Regions from separate parts of the Homo sapiens genome. Here region 2 is linked to region 1. Evidence: fine-mapped expression QTL. Tissue or cell type: whole blood. Region 1 holds a variant in brackets; the other region holds the start of a gene. All regions are shown on one strand. Distances are between the middles of the regions.

Region 1 (2,760 bases):
TTCCTAATATGATATCATACTGACATGGAAAGATGCTTAAGATATATAAGGGAGTAAACAAAATGATATAGTCTTATTAACCCATAATTAACACACATAAAAGTAAAAAAAGTATAAAAGCAAAATTTTAACAGTGGTTTTTTGGGTGGAGAGATAATTGAGAGGTGCACAGGCTCACAATGTGTAGGGCTTTGTTATTAAACTTATTTCTATTTTTTTTCTGCTACTAAAGAAAATGTAAAAGCCTTTTGTTCCCCTCAAACATAGATCATTATTTTGTTTATGCGTGAGAAAGTGTGTGTGTGTGTGTTTCAAGGATAATATTTTTATCCCCCACAAAATATACAGGAAAAGCTTATTCCATTTAAGGAGCTTTACATACCTTAGATGAATATTAAGTTGGTCTCTCTAGTTAGATAAGTAGCATGCAAAAAGTGAGCAGTAATCTCTTCAGTGACATTTCACACTTACAGGTGTTTGGGTACTGTATTTTTAGTGTTTCAACTCAGCATTTTGGGGAAGTTCATTTCTATGGAAATGCACCTTCCTTTTTATGATGGCAGTCAGTGAGTAGATTGGTGAATGTTCATATTTCTCTACTTTCAGAAATTTACCTATTTCATTATTTGAAATGAAATTTTGTTTGGTTAAAATGTTTCCTTCTAACAAAACATCTCTTTGAATTTCAGACTCCACTGAGATACACAAAGACATTATTGCTTCCAGTTGTTCTTGTAGTGTTTGTTGCTATTGTTAGAAAGGTATGTCTATCACTTAAGAGCTCTTTCTTATAATAGAATATTTTCTTGTTTTTACATAGTAGTCGCATATACTTGGCCACATTTATCTGATACAACGTTTTGTATGGGCTTACTGTAACATATTCTATGTTTTCTTAATGATAGCTTTTGATAGACATTTATATAGCTTCAAAATATTCTATCTGCTAGCATAAAACAGACATCAGAAAAGGATGGCTCAAGTTCCGATAGTCATGTATTTTGGAAGGCATGATCAGAGACCATATTGACCCAGATACAACTTGCCTGTGTAAATTATTACTGGCTTTTACCTTTAATGTAATATTTCCCTAAAATATTTAAAATATACCTAAGTGATTTGTGCAGTGTGCAATAACTCCTGGATTGTGTTTATTATTAATCAGAAAGAAAAAACAGAGTATTTGCAATGTGTTGATGAACTAGATAAAATGTTTAGGTCCCCAAGTTGGCTTTGACGATAAAATTCAAAGCCCAGATATAAATAAGATCAAAGCAAGTGTGATATTCCCTCTCTTTTTTTCTTTAAGAATTGTGCACTCTGTAACCAAATGTGTCTTAAGAGAATGAACAGAAGTTAATCTGTGATGGAAAAAGAGACGACAGACCTTAAAAGTTTCCTGATA[C/T]GTGGCCAGTGATTTCTGTGTTAACACAATGTCATTTATTTGTAGAATATTCTGTATTATAACAATTGTTCATATTATATATTTGTACTCTGCTTTGTATAGAACATTTTCACATGAGTATTTAAATTGGTTATTCAACAGCCCTATGGGGTAGACAAATGTTATCTCCATTTTAACATACAGAACTGAAAGATCAAAGATGTTGTTAGGAGCCTCGCATCATGTCCACTTAAAAGCAAGGGAAGAGTGAGACTCGGGCTCTGCACCTTCCCCTATCGTTGGGCTATGTCTGGTATTCAGCTGTGTACTCCGACAGCACTTTTAATCTCTAATCAGTTAAGAGTCAGTTCCTGCTGTGTGCTAGGCTTTGTGTGTGCTTTGCACTTTTGTATAGTTTATGTGGGTTTGCACCTAGTGGGTACTCAAAAAATACTAAGCATTGGCCATCCAGAACATATGCAAAAGACAGCAACCTGAGTGGTGAGAGATGATGAAAACTATTAGCTAGGCTGTTTCGTTTAAAGAAGAAAAGATGTAGATGGAAAGCGGATAATTACTTTGAAATATGGTAAAAGCCTGTGCCTTGAAAATAAGGTTACACACAATCTGGCTCCTTAGAATCATGGCCAATTCCAGGAGGTATGACTTTTGACCAGAACTGATCTCGACTGATAAGGAAAGTGTTATAGATTCAAGCAGCAGCTGGTGGATTCTAAGGGCTGGATTACAGCCTGTCATCAGTGTTGTAGAGAATATTTGTACTGGAGATACGATTTTAGATTAGATGACCTCCTCATTATTGCTGAATATGAAAGCACAGTGACTGTGTTTTGAATGCTTCCAGCTGTGATTATCAACCTCTGAGCCAGCTCTCCAGTTTTCTGAGTGCACTGTTAAGAAGAGGTGTTGCCAACAACGTTGGCATGGTGGAAGCAGCGCTGAATGTGAATTTGAAGCCAGAAGATCTGGTTTCAAGACTGCAGTGCTTCTTAGTAGTTGTCTACCTACAGGGCAATCATTTAATCCATATGAACCTGTTGCTCATTTACAAAACGAGGATGATATAATCTACCCAACAGGGTTGTTGAATATTAGCTTTGATCAGATACTATACAAATATAAGATTATGTTGTTGTGATTATTATTTTCTGAGTTATCTCTATACTTATATTTTCATTAAAAGTTATTTTACAGTTTAGAAGATACTTTATTTAAAATATCATTTTTCCCAACACAGCTTTTCTAAAGTGTTTCAAAATCTATTTACAGATTATTAGTGATATGTGGGGTGTCTTAGCTAAACAACAGACACATGTAAGGTAAATATGCTATTAAGAATTTTATTACCTCCTCTG
Region 2 (2,760 bases), 91 kb before region 1:
GAATACATTCAACATTAATCCCAGAGGTAGCATTGAGTTCAGCTGACACAATGTTTCAGAATCCAAGCCTTCTGCATCCTACTTTCAACCATTATTTTTTAAACCAGTGTATAAAAATAGTTGTTCTTTGCTCCAATAAAGACATTGGAAAATCCAAATTCATAAACTAGACAGGGTATGAGGGAGTATTAATTAGCATGGCAAACACCCTCCCTTTACAAAATAATCCACTGTCTCTTAAAAAGGCTAACAATGAACGAATGCTGGTATTAGTAAAGAAATCACTGGGCAAAGAAACAAAGAGCGAGAAAGCCACGTGAAGTCCCTGGAATTACAATAGAGATAAGCAGAACGATGGGCCTTGATTTACAACATTGGGACTTAAAGACAACTTTTTGGAACAAGCCACTGGGCACGGCCAGGAAAGGAACCTCCCAGTTGTAATCCATGCTGTTGTAAGACTGTGTGCAAAGAATGCAGGGGTGGAGGGAGAATTGGGATCTACCTGGGTTTCTAAATTTTCCCGGGTTTAATTTACTCGTGCATTCTGCTATGTAAAAGAAAACATATTTTCGACTAAAATCTCCTATCTTATCAACGCCAAGTTTTCCTGCTTCCTATTAAGCAACAAGGTTACAGCAAGTGTAACAAACTGAATGTACTTATTGATGATCTTTCCTGCTCCAGCCAATCCATCCTATCACCTTCAGCCTGGCTCCTACCCTGGTCTTCAGTTTACACTTGTGCCTCGTCCCTTATCAGCTCCCCATGAGATTCCAGGCTGCTATTTTAATACTCTGTTACTATCTTAAATCGGGTCGCACCCGTTCTTCTTGTCGGTGAGTGAGGGGCTGCGCTCCAAGTTGCGCGACCACACTGCGGGGAGTAAACGGAGACGGTGACTTGATTGCCACCCGCGCGCTTCACATCGGTGGGGCCGACCAGGCGCCCAGGGCGCACGCACAGCGCCCCTAAGTGGCCGCTCCGGGCGCCTTCTCCCTGCCCCGCCGCGTCTCGCCTGCGCGGGCTCCAAGCGCAGCCTTAACAGGCTCCGAAACTTGAATCAGCGCCCCGATCCCGAGAGGGCTCTTCCTTCGGCCCCATCACTCCCACAATGGAAGGGCGGCCGCCTCCGGAAGGCCGTCCGCCCCCGCGTCCTCGCACCGGCCGAGCCCCGCGCGGGCGCCGAAGAGGTGTGGGTAGCCGGGCGCCAGAGGGGTCGGGCCCCGCCTGCGCCGGAAGTCCGCGCGTGCGCGCTGGCCGGCCTGGAGCGCGCGTCCGGCGCAGAGGGGCGGCGGGGGCGGGGCCGCGGCCGCTCGCAGGGTGTCCCCGCCCCCGCCCCCCGGCGTTCCGCGGTCGCCGTGACAACCGGAGCGGCGGCAACGGCGGCGGGCTAGCAAGTCCGGCGCCGCCTCCCGGCGGTACTGCCAGCCAGGCAGCAGCCGCCCGGCCTCCACGATCTCCCCGCCTCCCGGCCCGCGGGGAGGGACGAGCCCGCCCTCCACCCTCCGCCCGCCCGCCCGCTGGAGAGTGAGCTGCGCCCAGCCGCCCAGCCAGCCCGCCGTTCTCTGGCCGCCGTCCGGGCGCGCGCAGCGAGCGGGCGCGACTATGCCAAGATGGTCCTGCAGGCGCGGAACAAGCACCGGGAGGCGGCTCCCAAGCCGCCCCAGCCACCCCGCGCCTCACAGTCGCCGCTGAGGGGGGCGTCGGACGTCGGCGCCGGGGAGCCGGGGCCCGAGCGCGCGCCCCTGTCCCCGGGGCGCAAGGGCGCCGCGGGCAGGAAGGGGCCCCGCGCCGAGCCCGGCGCGCCGCCCGCCGGGGGCGGCCTTGGGGGGCGCCTGGCCGCCCGGCTGCGCTGGGCGCTGGGCCTGCGGCGCGCGGGGCGCGGCCGGACCTGGACCACGCTCCTGTTAGGTGAGCAGCCCTAGCGCCGGCGCCGCCGGGACGCGGAACTTTGAGGCGCTGGCCCCCTCCCCTCCCCTCCCCTCCCCTTCCTTCCCCTCTCCTCCCGCTTCCGCCGCGCCGAGCCCCGCCAGCCGGACCAGCCAGTTTGCAGCCCTCTCCGACTTTTTCTCTGGGACATTCTTACCTTCTCCTCCCCGCAACTCCCTGGCTCAGCTCTCCTCGCACGCTTCCCACCCGCGCTCTGCCTGGGCTTTAAAAGAATGGCCCGGGGATCAACAGCTGCCCGGCCTGGCCGCGGGCAGCAGGTCTGCGCTAACGAGACTTGAGCGCTGCTGATTGGTACGACTGGCCGCCTTCCCGTTATCTCGGCCTCTGACCGCCAGGATGGTTTGCTTTGGCTTGGAAACGATTCCGTGGAGCTCAAAGCAAACGCACGTTCCATGTCGTAGAGAGTTGCTTAAACTTATAATTAAATTTTAGCGTACTTTTTTCTTCCTGGCCGCAAACGCCGCTGGTGGCACTTTATTTGTGATTCCCCTCGACACGTCACTTTCTAGGTTGTGTTGTGTTTGGGGCGCCCGAGCCTTAATCCTCCCTGCTGCCCTTGGAACCTTTGGTGAGGAGGGCTCTCCTCCCCTCCCTCTGCCATTTACCAAATGGATGATGTGTAATGATGTGCTGAAAAAAAAAAACAAAGTTGACGCATTCGTATGTTTCGGACTGACTTCAGGTTTCCTCTGTTTCCTGGTTGAATTTTGATAAGGCAAGTTGTAGCAGTTTGGATAACAGGCCTAATTTTTCTAAGTCAACTAGTGAAATGCTGTTACATTGCTTTTTTCTATATGCCTCAGTGGG

The links. PIP is the estimated chance that this variant, and not a neighbour inherited with it, causes the effect.
Region 2: DPY19L1 starts here. The variant in region 1 is fine-mapped to the expression of DPY19L1 in whole blood (INTERVAL, PIP 0.98).

What each region holds. Positions count from the first base shown.
Region 1 is chr7:34,945,631-34,948,390 of GRCh38, reverse strand. DPY19L1 (dpy-19 like C-mannosyltransferase 1) reads left to right here. Exons shown (of 22, transcript NM_001366673.1): 15 at 690-761; 16 at 2,675-2,724. The region is part of intron 2 of LOC102724723 (a long non-coding RNA gene); the gene reads right to left. Among named protein-coding and RNA genes, the nearest start is that of MIR548N, 6.2 kb to the right of the region's middle. The variant C/T (reference allele first, on the strand shown) is at 1,406.
Region 2 is chr7:35,036,251-35,039,010 of GRCh38, reverse strand. It overlaps DPY19L1 (dpy-19 like C-mannosyltransferase 1), which reads left to right and starts at 1,526. Exons shown (of 22, transcript NM_001366673.1): 1 at 1,526-1,914. The coding sequence starts at 1,617. LOC105375228 (a long non-coding RNA gene) reads right to left here and starts at 2,225. Exons shown (of 3, transcript XR_001745162.3): 1 at 2,090-2,225. RefSeq lists an enhancer at 687-916 and silencers at 967-1,636, 1,667-1,836.